Homo sapiens: one gene and its partner. The protein of the gene in region 1 purifies or fractionates together with the protein of each later gene. This does not show direct contact. Each region holds a gene or a part of one and is shown on either strand. Other genes may lie near its edges.

Region 1 (7,914 bases):
TTGCAGGGAGTGTGCCTTGGGCATCGTGGGGCCACGCGAGGAGTAAGGGAAAGCTGGACTGCGCCGGGGCATCTTAGAAATCAGAGCTGGAAGTTTCATCCACCAGGGTGAATGGCAGGCTACAGAATAGATAACAGCAGAAAGCAAAGCAACTGGCTTGACAGTGTTAAGTTGCTGGTGTTGGATTTTCTTGGAGTTAATGTTTCTCCTTTTTTGTGTGTGTGGTTTAAGCCAGCAGCCACTGGGTCTCTCCCTCCCCATGTAATTTTTTATTTTAATTGAGATGGAGTCTTACTCTGTTGCCCAGGCTAGAGTGCAGTGGCGCAATCTCAGCTCACTGCAACCTCCGCCTCCTAAATTCAAGCAATTCTCCTGCCTCAGCCTCCCAAGTAGCTGGGATTACAGGCGCGCGCCATCACGCTTGGCTAATTTTTTTGTATTTTTTAGTAGAGACAGGGGTTTCGCCAGTTGCCCAGGCTGGTCTCGACTCCTGAGGTGATCAGCCCCCTTCGGCCTCCCAAAGTGCTGGGATTACAGGCGTGAGCCACCGCGCCCGGCCCCTCCCCATGTAATTTGATTGCATTCCAGAGAAGACAGACTTTCTTCCTGGGCTGCTTAGGCACCCAGCAACCACTAAACCAACTTTCTGAGTCCCACATCATTTACAAACAAAACCTACGTCTTCAAAACAAAACAAAAAACAAAAGCTGGGGGACTGGGGAAGCAGATGTTTTAATTGGCTCCTTTTGGAGTTCCTTCTTCTCCCCACTCCGTCCTCTCCACAACATCCCATCTCCATGCCTTGCCTGCCTTTGGAAAAAGGGGAAGAAGGAGTGTGAGGTACTTATTATTAATAAGTAAATTTCTGGAAAGAAACAAATTGCTCCTAGCTTGGGTGGCTATTTAGTGAAGTTACTTGCCATTGCGGGTTTTTTTTTTCTTTTTTTAGCATTCTGTTCTCTGAGGTTTAAGGCTGTCTGGGTGCGTTGATGATTCAAAAGTAATTACAGTAGGGGAAGTAGAACAAAGTTGCTGAAAGCATTGATGATAAAAGCACCAAAATTGGATCATCTTCCCAGACAGATGGGTGAAATGGCTTTCTGGTACAGCAAGGACAGGATTGTGTGTAACATCAAAAAGAAAAAAGAAATGTTAATATCAGCTTGGCAAGAATGGCTGTTGATTGCAGCTCTATATGAGATTGTCACCCCATTGCTAAGAGGTTGTGACCTTGGCTTTGGGATTAGATGGGGGAAAGCCAAGGAAACAAGACCCACGCTGTAACCTCCCAACGTGAAATGAGACCTGGTGGAGGCAGCCTCTTCCGGAGCTCAGTGACCCACACGCCTTTTGGAGGAATCAGAGATTTTTTTGTTGTCCATGAATCCTGATGCCCCTTCCTCTCGATGATGCCCTGGATTACCTTCTCACATGCCGAACTGGACAGGTTCTGATAGCTAATTGCAAGGATTCTTCTGAGAGACTGACCATCTCTGAAAATTACGATGTGGCAAGTTTTCAGGATGGCTAGCTCTTTTGTTATCCGCATAAGGGAGAAATTCTGCCTTATTCCCTCAAAAAGTTGTTCAGACACCGTTCACTGTAGATGTAGGCAAGCCTTTAACTTGAAAAGCTTAGACATGAATCTTGCTGGAGCTTCCTTCCATAGCTTGCTATGCAGGGGGCGGGAAGCCTGCATGTTTATAGCTGGCTCCTCCTCCTGCCCTGCTGGTGCCTCTCACCTTCCTTTGCCTACCCTGGGTCTTGGCCTCTTTGTGCTCTCACAGTGACTGCTGAGGCTCCCTCCTGCATCTCCTTTGGAGTTTTTCCCCCATCTTTGGGTAAGGGTTGCAGCCTGCGTGGTGACTTAAGCTTGTGTTTGCTCCTGTCCCCAAAATTGCAGAGGAGCGCTGATAAATCAGCAACAAAGTTTGTAAATGCCTAACATCTGGGGCTGGGGGTTTGCAGTTGACTTGCAGAGCTTTCCACTGAGCAGCACTGGAATTGCTGTGAAAAATCCCTCGGAGGATGGCAGAGGTGGGGGTGTTCCTTTGTCCTCTCTTCTCAACCGTAGAGGTCTTAAAGAAACTGGGTAGCAGAGAGGTGTCATTTCATCCTTTCCATGGGACCTTCCAAATCCCTTATCATGGATTTTGTTAAAATGGTAAATACTAAAGAAGTCACATTTCTAGCCAACGTGAATTGATGCTCCCAACCTGTGAAGAATTAAAGTGTTTGTAAATAAGCATGGAAAAGAAAGACAATATGTAAATATATATGGGATTGTGTGTATGTGTGTACATATCAATACATAGCTTCCCTTCCAATTCCTCCTACAATTTTTTTTTTCTGCTAGCTTTTGGGTAATTTGGGGTATTGTCTTTTATTCCCATCATGGTAAGTTTGGTTCTTAGATTGGACAGAGTGGGGACCAGGGTCAGGGATGGTGGTTAAAGTTTACATTGTTACTTCAAAGCATTGTTTCTGAAGCAAAATTGCTTCAGGCCTGGGTTCAAATACCTTCTTTTCCTATTTGCAATGAGACTTGATAAATCACTTTAGTATTCTGAGTAACTTATCTATAAAGTAGTAATAATGATATCTACCCTTCTATTATACTTGGTACTTAGTAGGTGCTTGATAAATATTAATGTCCTCCCTCTTTACATAGTTAGACTACTCTGTTCGCCCTCCTCCATTCCCCCAAGGACACAGTGTAAACAGCACGTAGTCTTGTGGGTTTTATTTTTCAAGACAGGTGGCCGGGGGTCAGAGGGGACACTGATTGTGGGGGCTTGGGCCTTCTGGAAGGATCAACCTCTTAGGCTTACAAACAGCCTTGCTGCACAGACCCCTTCTTTGTGTCATGTGACTTGGGATGTGATTTGTTATCTGCCTGGGCTGTGGGACTTTGGCCATTCTGTCTGGTGCCTGGGCATCTGGGGGTGGGAGAAGGCCAGGCATGTGCCCCCTGTGAGTCTCTAAAGTCTAAACTTCCTTAGAGGTTCTCAAATATGGATATAACGAATATTCAGGACAACTGTATGCTACATTCTCTCACTGTCTGCTTTGAGAGTTAATGAATTCAGAGAGATTGAGGTTTCTTTTAGGTAATTTTAATAAGAGGGGGAAAAAGAAAATGGGGTTTGAAGAGAAATAGATGTTCTTAAGCTATTTGTTTGCTCCTGTGGTTTTGGGGTACAACATTGAGAAAGTACAAAAGCAGCATTGATCTGCTTTTCATCTTGTCTTAGTCTGGCCAGCTCTGGGAAGCATGGAATTAACTCGCTTGTCTTTGGGACGTGGGATTGGGTGTGGCCCTGACATATTTCCCTCACTTTTCTGAAATGGAGTAGTAGTTCTGAACTGGGATGCAGATGAGCACATTAACACGCAAATCTTACAAAGAAAGTACTAGAAATTAAAGTGGATAAGTTGACGACTTAAAACTGGAAGCATCTCTGGACCAGAGACCAAATAGAATGGAGTTTCTTTGTCTGGCAAAATGCCCAGCCCTTCAGGTCTGAGTATGCCTGCACCAGGATCTGTTATCACAGGGTACTCCAGTGAGCGCCACAGCCTCCCTCTAGGCAAAAGTGTGTATGCCCTGTTTTATGTTAGCTATTCTAGGAGTTAGCCTTGAACCTGATCTCTGAGTGGATCTGACATTTCCATTTCCCTCCTAGGTGCTCTAGTCCTTCCCCCACCCCCATCCCCCCAAATCAGACTTTGCTCTTACTCTCTTTTTATTCTATACCTTCTTTTATTTCTTGCCACAGCTTTTTCCATCCTCTTGAATTTGCACTTTCCCATCTGCATTGTTCCCAGGGAACAAATATGGCCCCAATCCCAGTGAGAGCCAAGCAGACTCATGGAAAGGCTCAAATTGCCTGCGGAAGGCTTCCTGGATAGTAGATCCCAGCTTTTCTGTTCCCGCAGCAGAATAGAGCTAGGACCCCTCTTTCACAGGAACAGGGGCCTGCAGGTAGAGACAGCAGACCCAGGTTTTCTGACTCACGTCACATAGAACTACCCCTAGAGAAGAAAACTGGATCCTAGGCATGAGTCCTCTAAGGCTTGCAGAAACACTGAGCCAGTCAGGTACGGTGGGGAGAGGGGCCAAGGGGACTTTGGCTGAATTGCCTTCTAGCCCTGGGTTAGTCAGAGACCCTGGCAACCGGTAGATACTGGCTCTCAGCCAGGGACACACATCAGAGTCTCCTGTGACACTTGCTAAAAATACAGACCCCCCACCTGGGATCTGCTGAATCAGCGCATGGGCAGGTGGGTCAGGCATGCATGTGTTCCAAATGCTCCTTGTGGCTCTGACAGGTGCCCCTGGAGAAGAGCCAGGTAGGCACAGCAGTGGCCCCAACTGCCTGTTTTGCCCCGAGCAGGAAAATTCCTCTTGGTGGTCCCGTTTTACTGTATGTTAAAGATCTGTGGCTCTTCAAGGGGAGTCCTAAAGTTTTCAGAGTAAATGGACAGAGTAATGATCCATCCTTGTTTACCCAGTAATGGTTACAGCCAATATTTATAGAGTACTTGCCATAGGCAAGGTACTATTCCTAGCATTTTATATCTCGTATCTCACTTAGTTCTCCTGACAACTTTTCCTTTCCAATAAGAGGAATTAACCTCACTTTACAGATAAGGAAAACTTTCACAGGGAGAGGGAAGGACTTTGCCCAAGGGTACATGGCTAGTGTCAGCCAGACATTTGCATTGTCTGGCATTTCACTTTTTTTTTTGAGATGGAGTCTTGCTCTGTCGCCCAGGCTGGAGTGCAGTGGCGCGATCTCGATCTCAGCTCACTGCAAGCTCCACCTCCTGGGTCTATGCCATTCTCCTGGCTCAGCCTCCTGAGTAGCTGGGACTACAGGCGCCCGCCACCACGCCCGGCTAATTTTTTGTATTTTTAGTAGAGACGCGGTTTCACTGTGTTAGCCAGGATGGTCTTGATCTCCTGACCTCATGATCCGCCCGCCTTGGCCTCCCAAAGTGCTGGGATTACAGGCTTGAGCCACCGTGCCCGGCCTAACATTTCACCTTTTAGAGTGCTTTTGAGTTCATGATTCAGGTGCATGCTTCAGGTGAAGCCACCTTTTAAGGGACCATGCAGGGGAAACCTTTCCAGATTGGCTTATGAGGAAACTGAACCCCAGAGAATTGTGCCCTAGCAAGGCCACGGAACTGTTGAAAAGCTGAACTGGAGCAAGAGCTGGGTTTCCTGACTTCTAGATCAGTACTTTCTCAAGTGGACTCACCTATACGGCTTGGCTGGTCATAGGTGAAGCTGAGGGGTGTGGGGGGAGCAGCAGAATGTCCCTGGAGATGGGTGCCTCCCTGGCAGACTCCTTCCATTCCTTCTGCAGAGGCCAGCCATATGAAGGAGGAACTGGTTGGCCAGCCTCAATGAGTGTGTATGTGTGTGTGCGACTGATTCGTTTTTGTGGAGTCCCGGAAAACATCATTTCCGGTTTGGCCCTGTTACTACCTCTGAAATGAGTTAGAAGAAATCTCTATGGTCCCTTTAATGTGAACATTTTGAGATGGAGACTGAGGTAAGAGTATGAAAGTACTTTGCACTTAATGAGTAGCAGTTGACACTTACAAAGCTTTTGTTAGGACCAGGACACTCCCTGAGCTCCCTGCAATTCTGACACTGAGAAATAGGTAGTCTTCCCATTTTGCAGATGAAGAAACTGAGGCCCATGGCTGCATACCTTACACATGGCAGAGCCTAGATTCGAACTCAAGTCTGGGTGCCTTGTGTCACCACTGTATTTTTCCCTGGTCAGAACAGATACCCTTGCTTTGTCCTGTGTCCTCACTGCTTTCTCCAGCTCACGTTTGTATCAACCTAAAGCAGGCCTACATACCTGGAAGGGAAAGAAGCAGTGGATTCTTCCTAGGCTTCAACTATATCTAAGCATTCCAGGAGTCAAGGGCACAGCACTAAGGCAGGAACTTGAAACACTCACTGAGAGGTTGTCTGTGTGTAGCCCCTCCCACAGGGGCTTGTTATACACCTCCTTAGGGGGAAGGAGGGGTAACTCCAGGTAGGCAAGTGTGGTTTCCAATCCCTCACAATGATACCTTTGCTCTGGCTGGTGCTACATAGGGCAGGGTCTCCTGCTGAGGCAGGGGCAGGATCCAGTCCTTTGAGTTTTCTTGGATGGCATCTCAGGCTTGTCCCTGCTGCCCTGTGGGCTATTAGATCACTTCCTGACATCCCTCAAGAGTCCTCTGGAGTGGGGCTTGCAGGGCTGAGCCTGCAGCTGACTTGTCTATGAGGAAACGCCTCCTCTGTCTCTGGTCCAGGATCTGCTACTTATGGAGGCCCACCCCAACCCAGCACGTTTTTAAAGTACGTTGGAGCTGCCCAGGAGGGTGTTTTGGCAATACCTCCTTTAGAGGCTGATTCTGAAATCAGCGTGCTTTAGAACTGCCAGAAATCCCCTGCTCCCAAAACTGAGTCCTCTTACCTCTCTAGCTGAGGTCAGAGAACAGATTGCTGAAGGGGCAGAGACAAGAAAGTGTGTGACCTGTGACCCTCGCCCCACAGGTGGCATTAAGGACTCAGGTCTGAAAGAAGAGACAGCCATATAGGGAGCTCTCCTGCCCAGGGAAAGGGAACTAATGGAGACACTGGCTTAGGTAGAGCTGCCCCAGTTGCTGGTGCAGAGAGGGCACCAGCATACAACATGCTGGTATGGGCCAAACAGCATGGCTAAAACTGCTTTTTAATTTTTTAAATTTTATTTATTTATTTATTTATTTTGAGACAGAGTTTTGCTCTGTCCCCCAGGCTGGAGTGCAATGGTGTGATCTCGGCTCACTGCAACCTCCACCTCTTGGATTCAAGTGATTCTCGTGCCTCAGCCTCCGGAGTAGCTGGGATTACAGGAGCTCACTACCATACCCTGCTAATTTTTGCATTTTTAGTAAAGATGGGGTTTCACCATATTGGTCATGCTGGTCTCGAACTTCTGACCTTAAGTGATCCCCACTGCCTTTGCCCCCCAAAGTGTTAAAACTGCTTTTTTCAAAAAATGCCCATGCAGTTAGATACACAGCTACTTTTTGGAACTTCGGGAGCCGGTGCTAAGCTGGGTCCGGCCCTGCCTTGCTTGTTAGCTGTAGAGAACAGTGTCAGTGGCCAGGCATGAAAGCAGTACACCCTCCCCATTGTTTGCAGTCTTTTGTGTGTGGGGGCTGTCTAGGCATCTCACCCTCTTTTGTTCCCTGCCGACTCACCTGCTGGTCCCAGGAGCTCTTCCGTCCACCTGGCACTTTAGGGCATGTCCATAGCCAAGGAACAGATGCCCCTTGCAGAGGACCTGGGAGGACTTCTCTCCATGGGGGAGTCCCAGTCAAATGTGTCTTGGCTGCAGGGTTCAGGCAGCCGTCCAAGAAGGGCCGGAAATGCTCCAAATACTCTCCTTCCTCCAATAGCTGAGAGGAAGGAGGCCCCTCAGAGGGGCCATTTTATAGTGATAGCCAGGCTAAGGCTAAGTCCTTTGCTGTGGGGGATGGGAGGTGGTGGGGAAGGAAGTACTTCTGGGGATGAACCAAAAAAGAAAGCAACTTTCTACCTGAATGGGCTTGTTAAAATCTGATTGTCTCAGAGGTTACCTTCTGCTGAATCGCAGGCAGATGTGTGAGGAGTTCCTTTGCTGGGACACAAAGCTGTGTTGTTGACAAAAGTGGTATCTGGACCTGACTTTCAGGAGAAGATTAAAAACAGTGTTGCCCTGGTCACTCTGGTCTTCGTTTGTGTGTATGTGTGCACGTGTTCACGTGTTTGTACATGTACACTTTTTTTTTTTAAAGACAAAATCTCACTCTGTCACCCAGGCTGGAGTGCAGTGGTGCAATCACGGCTTACCGCAGCCTCAAACTCCTGGGCTC
Region 2 (7,914 bases), on another chromosome or scaffold:
ATGGGTAAAGCCCTAGCTTGAGTGCTGGTGAGGAAATGAAGGAAATGGCCACCTGGCCCTACCTGGGAGGGCCTCAGGCTAGAGGGAACACATAGCCCCAAGGTCAGGACCCTCAGTGCCTGAGATGTGGCCTTGCCTGGGAGCCCCAGGTAGGGGGAGTCCACCCAATCCTCAGAGAATCAACTCATGCACTCAGGAAATGACTCAGGAACAGTGAAAAGCTCCCCAAGAACAAGTTGAAAGGGATCTTGGTCCTTAATCATAGCAAGGATTTGGTAACCTTGGTTACCTGCAATGAGTCAGGAAAAGACTCCAAGGGAAGGGAGTGGGGGAGGCATTGTCACAGGAGGAAGAAGGGCCTCTATCCCAAATTCGATGAATGTTCTGAGTCCACATCTCTCTCTTCTCCCCACCTTCCCCCAGGAGCGCTATGAAGCAGCCATCCAACGGTCAGTGAAGAAGACGTGGGCCGAAATCCGGCAGCAGCGCTGGTCCTGGGCAGGGGCCCTGCACCACAGCTCTCCAGGACATAAGACCAGTGAGTAGGCTGGAGGGGCTGGGGAGTGGGTGGGCAAGGCTGGGATGGCAAGTAAGGGAAGGGAACAACTTCCCTACAAAAAGCTGGTGGCTCCCTGCAGCAGGTGTGCCTTGCTTTATGTGACTTGTGTCTTCTAGAATGGTCTGTAAGCCAAACTGTCCCTTCCCAAGGACTTCCACTATCAAATCAGAGATGGATTCTCTCCATTTGGTTTGCTCTTCAAACCTCTGTCATTTTAGGATTAGCCTTCTTTGCGCCTGTCAATTATTATTAGTTGTTGATACATAAAAGACTTTAATGACCTACAGACACTGGATCTTAAAGAAACTGTCACTCCTTGTCTCGGAAGGTAGATTTTTGTCTCTGAGTTTTCTCCGCGTAGGGCCACCATGGATTTTGGTCTGATTCTTTGCTGGCATGTATGTACCACTGTGCTTGGATGTCTTTATGCAATGGCAAGTTTCAGTATTTCTAGCTGTGTATCTTCTGTTTATGTGCTCCTGGACCCGTGCATTGTGTGTCTTAATATGTGTTTGCCTTGGCGTGTTTGTGACCTTGTGTACCTCAGTGAGGGCTCCTAAGTCAGACAGACTTGGGTTCCAGCTCTGGCACTTGCAGCGTAACCTTTAACTTCTCGAAGTCTCACTTTCTTCATCTATAAACTGGGGATAGTGATACTACTTGCCCCTGAGGTGGTAGATAGATGTTTGAAGGATCAAATGAGGTCACATGTGTGTGGTGCCCCACACAGTACCTGGCACATGGTAAGCATCAACAAATGTGAGCTGCTACAAATGTCATGATGAGGTTGCTTCGATCTGTTTGTGGCTTGTGTGCATCTGGGTCTGACACACTATCTGTTAGTGTTTGTGTCTCTGTCCCTGTGCATGTCTGCACACATGTGTGCATGCCGAAGTATCTGCCACTCTATATGCCTGTGTCTGCATGTCTTTTTGTGATTCTGGATGAACACGTGGATTTGTGCAAGTGACTGTGACTGTGTAGGTCCTGTTTAGGAGGGTTTTTGCATTTATCCCAGTACGGGGGTGTTGTATCCAAACGTCTTGGCTGGGCAGTGTCAGCAAGTGCTAATGCTGGGTGGTTATGGGGAGGGGTTGCAGTACTCAGCCGTAAGGAATGGCTTCCTTGGTCTGGCCAGGAAAGCTGTAGTTTCTCTAGTTTTACTCATCTCCTCCCTTTGTTCCTTCTCCGTCGGCTCCCCCAACCCAGGTTGTCTCTGGTCACCTACCCCCCCACCCTCCCTCTCCCAGGGCCAAGGCTGCCTCCTGCTCCTCATCCTAGCCTGCCCACTCCTCCCTCTCCCACCCCGCCCTCGGAGCATCCTGCATGGAAGGCCTCGGTGCCCCCCACTGGCTCCTGCCGGGCCCGGCCCTAATGCCGTGTCTTTTCCCCCTCCAGGTGGGAGCAGGTGCTCCGTGTCGGCAGTTAACCTGCCCAAACACGTGGACTCTATAATCAACAAGCGGCTCTCAAAGTCCTCTGCCACGCTCTGGAACTCCCCCAGTAGAAGTAAGAGAAGGCCCAGCCCTTCCCCCTCCAGAGCCCCTTGTAGCTCCCACCAAGCCTCCTCCAGAGCTCAGCAAGAACACCAGGTCCCTGGAGCCCTCACATACTCCAGGTCCCCATCCCCACTCTACCTTACCCAGGGCTCTGTGCCCCTCGGGGGAGCCGGCATATGGGTCTGGACCCTGAGGACAGAGGTTGCCCTGTAGGAGAGGAGAACAGAGACAAAGCACAATGCCGCAGAGGGCAGGAAGCCTGGCAGGAGCCTCAAGAGCAAGTTGGAGGTGGTGGCTGGGGGTGGGGACAGGCAGGCAGCCTTTTCTGCAACCACAGCCAGCTGGTCTGGGCCAACCTTAGCCAGGTGGCATTGTCCCCATGTGTCAGACTGGCCTGGGTGCTGTGGGGTGGAGGGGTCCCTCATTCTGGCTCCACCCTAGAGGGCCCATGCAATCCTGCCCTCTCTGTCTTCAGAGCCCCAGTCATGGCCTTGGCTGGTCCCAGAGTTGAGCCAACCAAGGTGGCATAGCCCCTGCATTCCCACCATGCCCTGGTGCTCATATGTGAAGGAGCCATGGTGGGAGTTATTTATAAGTTTCTCTTGCATTTGTTTGGCTGCTTTGTTGCCTAGCAACCAAATCAGCTGCTGTACCAACCCCACCTGACTGAGGCTTAAAAATAGCCCAGCAGCTGAGGGGACAGAGCAGGGTGGCCTAGGGCAGGCAGGCACCCTAGCAGCCTCTCCCTGGCACAGGACTGCTAAAAGCTGGGTCAGAGGAGCACAAGGACCCTCACTGTCCTGAATCCATGGGACAGCCTCGGCTGGGTCAGCCCTCTGACAGCAGGAGGGGCAAGACCTTACACTGGGACATGGCAGAGGGCAATTGGGTTTTCTTCCAATCCTGGATGGCTCCTTCCTATATGCGCCGTTCAGGGCCCCTTCACCTGGGGAGCGTTGTAGGCGGGGACCCTCATCCGATGCAGGATGTTGCCCTGGGAAGTGTCTGGTTGCCTGGGTCTGTAGTGGAAGTCCAGATCATAGGGAGGACAAGTGTGGCCCCGGTGTGATTGTGGGGAGAGGACTCCCGGGTGAGAAGCCTTGGCCTTGGCATGGGGATGGTGCCTGGTCTGCTCCCTTGCCTCTTCCTGCCTCCTACGGCCCCCACGGTGACCGGCTTCGCCTGGCCTTCTACCCCCAGATCGCAGCCTGCAGCTGAGCGCATGGGAGAGCAGCATCGTGGATCGTCTGATGACGCCCACTCTCTCCTTCCTTGCTCGGAGTCGCAGCGCGGTCACACTGCCCCGCAACGGCCGGGACCAGGGTAGGGGCTGCGACCCTGGGAGAGGCCCCACGTGGGGCCGGGCAGGGGCCAGCCTGGCGCGCGGGCCGCAACCCGACCGCACTCATCCCTCTGCAGCCGTGCCGGTGTGCCCGCGCTCGGCCTCCGCCAGCCCCCTGACGCCGTGCAGCGTCACCCGAAGCGTGCACCGCTGCGCCCCCGCCGGTGAGCGCGGGGAGCGCCGCAAGCCCAACGCCGGGGGCAGCCCCGCTCCGGTGCGCCGCCGGCCGGAGGCCTCGCCGGTGAGTGGCTCTACTGGCTCGAGTGGCCGCGCAGGTGGGGACAGGCAGCCTGGAACTGGGGTACGCGGGCGCTGCTGACCTCTACTCTCCTCTTCCGTTCCTCCTTCCCTGCCAGGTGCAGAAAAAGGAGAAGAAGGACAAGGAGCGGGAAAACGAGAAGGAGAAGAGTGCCCTAGCCCGGGAGCGCAGCCTCAAGAAGCGCCAGTCGCTGCCCGCCTCCCCACGTGCCCGCCTCTCTGCCAGCACCGCCTCTGAGCTCAGGTGGGCGCGGGCGGTGCGAGGGACCCTGCCCCTCACCGGGTCATTTATTCATCACCCACAAATATTTGTTGGGCAACCACCTCTAGAATGCAACTTCCCTGAGGGCAGATTCTCTCTGTTTTGTTTGAGACAGGATCTCCCTCTGTCACCCAGGCTGGAGTGCAGTGGCACAATCTCGGCTCACTGCAGCCTTGACCTCCCAGGCTCAGGCTATCCTCCCACCTCAGCCTTCCAAGTGGCTGGGGCTACAGGCGCGCCACCACGCTCGGCTAATTTTTTGTATTTTTGGTAGAGTGGGGGTTTCGCTACGTTGTCCAGGCTGATCTTGAACTCTTGAGCTTAGGTGATCCACCCGCCTTGGCCTCCCAAAGTGCTGGGATTACATGTGTGAGTGTAAGCCACCCCGCCCAGCCTCCATTTTTCTTTTTGTTCGTTTTTGTTTTTGTTTTTTTAAGTGTTTTGGTTACTGAAGTACCCCAACACCTAAAATAGTGCCTGGCACCTGGTAACCACTCAGTGAATACCTACTGAAGGGCCAGGGTAGTGCCTCACGCCCGTAATCCCAGCACTTTGGGAGGCCAAGGGGAGGATTGCTTGAGCCCAGGAGGTCGAGGCTGTAGTGAGCTATGTATGATGATGCCACTGCACTCCAGCCTGGGGGTCAGCCAGATTCTGTCTTAAAAACAACAACAACAACAACAACAAAACCTGCTGAATGAATGGACCTGTCAGGTAGCACTCAGGGTGCTGAGGACACGTTGCTGAGCTAACCCAAGCATGGTTTTTTCTCTTATTAAGCTTACAGGCTATTGGCGGGGGACATACAATAATCAAAGAATCCCACAGAAACATGTCATTACAAACTGGGGTGTATGCTCTAAAAGGGAATGGTGTGTTTCTGTGAGAGCAAGGGGGCGGGGGGCGGCGCTGATGTAGCCTGGGGGAGGGGGCACCTCCCAGAGGAAGGAACAAGTTCTCAGCGTGTGGGTGTGTGTGTCTCCTAACCCTTCCCTTTTCCCTTTTCTCTTAGCCCCAAATCCAAGGCCAGGCCATCCTCTCCCTCCACATCCTGGCACAGGCCTGCCTCCCCCTGCCCCAGCCCAGGGCCAGGCCACACTCTGCCTCCAAAGCCACCGTCCCCCCGAGGCACCACTGCATCCCCCAAGGGGCGGGTTCGGAGGAAGGAGGAGGCAAAGGAGAGCCCCAGCGCCGCAGGGCCCGAGGACAAGAGCCAGAGCAAGCGCAGGGCCAGTAACGAGAAGGAGTCAGCAGCCCCAGCCTCACCGGCACCTTCGCCGGCGCCCTCGCCCACCCCAGCCCCGCCCCAGAAGGAGCAGCCCCCCGCGGAGACCCCTACAGGTAGGAATGAAGAGAGGGGAGGGGTGGGCCGAGCGAGAGAAGCCAGCTTCTCCTGTGTGGGGGTGTGGGCCGCCAGAGATGCCTGAGGACTGGGAGTGGGACATGGAAAGAGGAGACTCCTGCCCTCAGCAGTCCCAGGCCCAGAACACAGGCCGCTGGGAGATGACGGCGGTGTCTGCGTGGGTGTGCTGACGCCTGATCCCGGATCCCCCTCCAGACGCTGCTGTCTTGACCTCACCCCCAGCCCCTGCTCCCCCGGTGACCCCTAGCAAACCAATGGCCGGCACCACAGACCGAGAAGAAGCCACTCGGCTCTTGGCTGAGAAGCGGCGCCAGGCCCGGGAGCAGCGGGAGCGCGAGGAGCAGGAGCGGAGGCTGCAGGCAGAAAGGGACAAGTGAGTGCGCCTCGGGGACTGAGGGGGCCCTCGTGGGCGCTGGAGAAGAAGCAGAGGCCGAGCCTGAGCCGTTTGCTCCGTCCCCCAGGCGAATGCGAGAGGAGCAGCTGGCACGGGAGGCCGAGGCCCGGGCGGAGCGGGAGGCGGAGGCCCGGAGGCGGGAGGAGCAGGAGGCACGAGAGAAGGCGCAGGCCGAGCAGGAGGAGCAGGAGCGGCTGCAGAAGCAGGTGCCCCCGGCGGGCGGGAAGCGGCTGGGCGCGGGCGCCGCGGGCCGGGAGGGAAGGCTGGAGTCAAGTGCCCCACGCTCATGGGGGTCTTTGGCAGAAAGAGGAGGCCGAAGCTCGGTCGCGGGAAGAGGCGGAGCGGCAGCGTCTGGAGCGGGAAAAGCACTTCCAGCAGCAGGAGCAAGAGCGGCAAGAGCGCAGAAAGGTGTGCGGACCTGGGCGGGGATTTGTGGGCGGGGCCTGGGCAGGGCGGGCCAGGTGGGCGGGGCCTGGGCTTAGAGCGGACAGGACGGGAAAGCGCTGGGGCAAATTCCAGTTCCTGTCCTGGAGAGGGCTGCTATGAGCTGGGAGGCCCTAAGACTCCGAGGCCGGGTCTGGCTGGTGGGAGGTTTAGGATTAGGGGCGGGGCTCGAGCCTAACTGATCTGCGGCCTCCAAACAGCGTCTGGAGGAGATCATGAAGAGGACTCGGAAGTCAGAAGTTTCTGAAACCAAGGTCAGAATTCCCCCGAAGGGCAGTGCTGGGCGTGGGGGGCAGGGTGTGAAAAGGAGGCTGCGGAAAGGCATCCATGGCCACGGAGAGCGAGGCTGTCAGGGAGGCCGCTGCGGCCCGGGCAAGGGGAGGGCCGAACTCAGTCCGAAGTGGCTGGGGCCGGCTGTCCCTTGAGCCTGACTGCTCTTCCTCTTCAAAGCAGAAGCAGGACAGCAAGGAGGCCAACGCCAACGGTTCCAGCCCAGGTAAAGCCCCCATTCCTCTCGCCTCCCTTCCCTTTGCCATCCTCCTCCTCCTCCATCCTCACCTCTCTTGCCAGCCCCTGGCTGATGGCCCCTCTTTCCCTGTGACAGAGCCTGTGAAAGCTGTGGAGGCTCGGTCCCCAGGGCTGCAGAAGGAGGCTGTGCAGAAAGAGGAGCCCATCCCACAGGAGCCTCAGTGGAGGTACCAGCTTCCAATCCCAGGGTCCCTGAGCAGGGAGGCAGACTGCAGCTGGAGCTGCGGGGTGGCCTGGGCTTTCCTGGGAGGTGAGGTGCTGAGCCTTGGCCTCTGCATCCACAGTCTCCCAAGCAAGGAGTTGCCAGCGTCCCTGGTGAATGGCCTGCAGCCTCTCCCAGCACACCAGGAGAATGGCTTCTCCACCAACGGACCCTCTGGGGACAAGAGTCTGAGCCGAACACCAGAGACACTCCTGCCCTTTGCAGAGGCAGAAGCCTTCCTCAAGAAAGCTGTGGTGCAGTCCCCGCAGGTCACAGGTAGATCTCCTGATTCCTGGACCCAGCTCCATTCCTCCCAGCAGCCTTCCCTGTACTCCTCAGCCCTGCCTTCTCTTCTGGCTCTGCCAGGCACCCTCTCCTGCTCCACCCTGAAGACCCCCAGCTATCTGGGCTTGAGTGCTGTTTGCCCTGACTGTTTCCCTTCCTGTTTTTCCCCAGAAGTCCTTTAAGAGGGTTTGCCTTGGATCCGGGCACAGTTGTGAGGGCTCCTCTGCATCACCTACCAGGATGTCTGGAGGAGAAAAAGACAGAACAAAGATGGAAGTGGCCTGGGCCCCTGGGGGTGGGTCCTCTCTGTTGTTTTTAATCTGCACCTTATAGACTGATGTCTCTTTGGCCGGAGCCAGATCTGCCCCTCAGTGCATTCGTGTGCTCGCACGCGCAGACATCCCTTCTCCCCCATACACACATATACACTCACAGCCTCTCTGGCCTCTTCCCTTGGGGAGGGGCCACCTGTAGTATTTGCCTTGATTTGGTGGGGTACAGTGGATGTGAATACTGTAAATAGCTTGTGCTCAGACTCCTCTGCGTGGAGAGGGTGGGTGCAGGAGGCAGACCCTCCCCCCAAAGCCCCCTGGGGAGATCTTCCTCTCTCTATTTAACTGTAACTGAGGGGGATCCCAGGTCTGGGGATGGGGGACACCTTGGGCCACAGGATACTGGTTGCTTCAGGGGTACCCATGCCCCCTGCCCTCGCCTGGAATCAGTGTTACTGCATCTGATTAAATGTCTCCAGAAATAAAGAATAATTCTGCCAATCCTG

The links.
Region 2: the proteins of CTDSP2 (region 1) and MAP7D1 purify together in Homo sapiens (affinity purification with mass spectrometry; 3 studies listed by BioGRID and IntAct, with this or other methods). This does not show direct contact.

What each region holds. Positions count from the first base shown.
Region 1 is NC_000012.12:57,836,561-57,844,474, reverse strand, and holds part of CTDSP2 (carboxy-terminal domain RNA polymerase II polypeptide A small phosphatase 2), read left to right. Parts: intron 1-713; exon of another isoform or gene 714-2,216; intron 2,217-7,260; exon of another isoform or gene 7,261-7,384; intron 7,385-7,914. UniProt on the Homo sapiens protein: Preferentially catalyzes the dephosphorylation of 'Ser-5' within the tandem 7 residue repeats in the C-terminal domain (CTD) of the largest RNA polymerase II subunit POLR2A.
Region 2 is NC_000001.11:36,172,941-36,180,854, forward strand, and holds the end of MAP7D1 (MAP7 domain-containing protein 1), read left to right. Parts: intron 1-423; coding exon 424-538; intron 539-1,957; coding exon 1,958-2,068; intron 2,069-3,258; coding exon 3,259-3,641; intron 3,642-3,756; coding exon 3,757-3,902; intron 3,903-4,932; coding exon 4,933-5,261; intron 5,262-5,478; coding exon 5,479-5,656; intron 5,657-5,744; coding exon 5,745-5,883; intron 5,884-5,980; coding exon 5,981-6,085; intron 6,086-6,321; coding exon 6,322-6,375; intron 6,376-6,571; coding exon of another isoform or gene 6,572-6,574; coding exon 6,575-6,617; intron 6,618-6,725; coding exon 6,726-6,816; intron 6,817-6,933; coding exon 6,934-7,127; intron 7,128-7,307; coding exon 7,308-7,318; 3' UTR 7,319-7,909; downstream 7,910-7,914. UniProt on the Homo sapiens protein: Microtubule-stabilizing protein involved in the control of cell motility and neurite outgrowth. Facilitate microtubule stabilization through the maintenance of acetylated stable microtubules.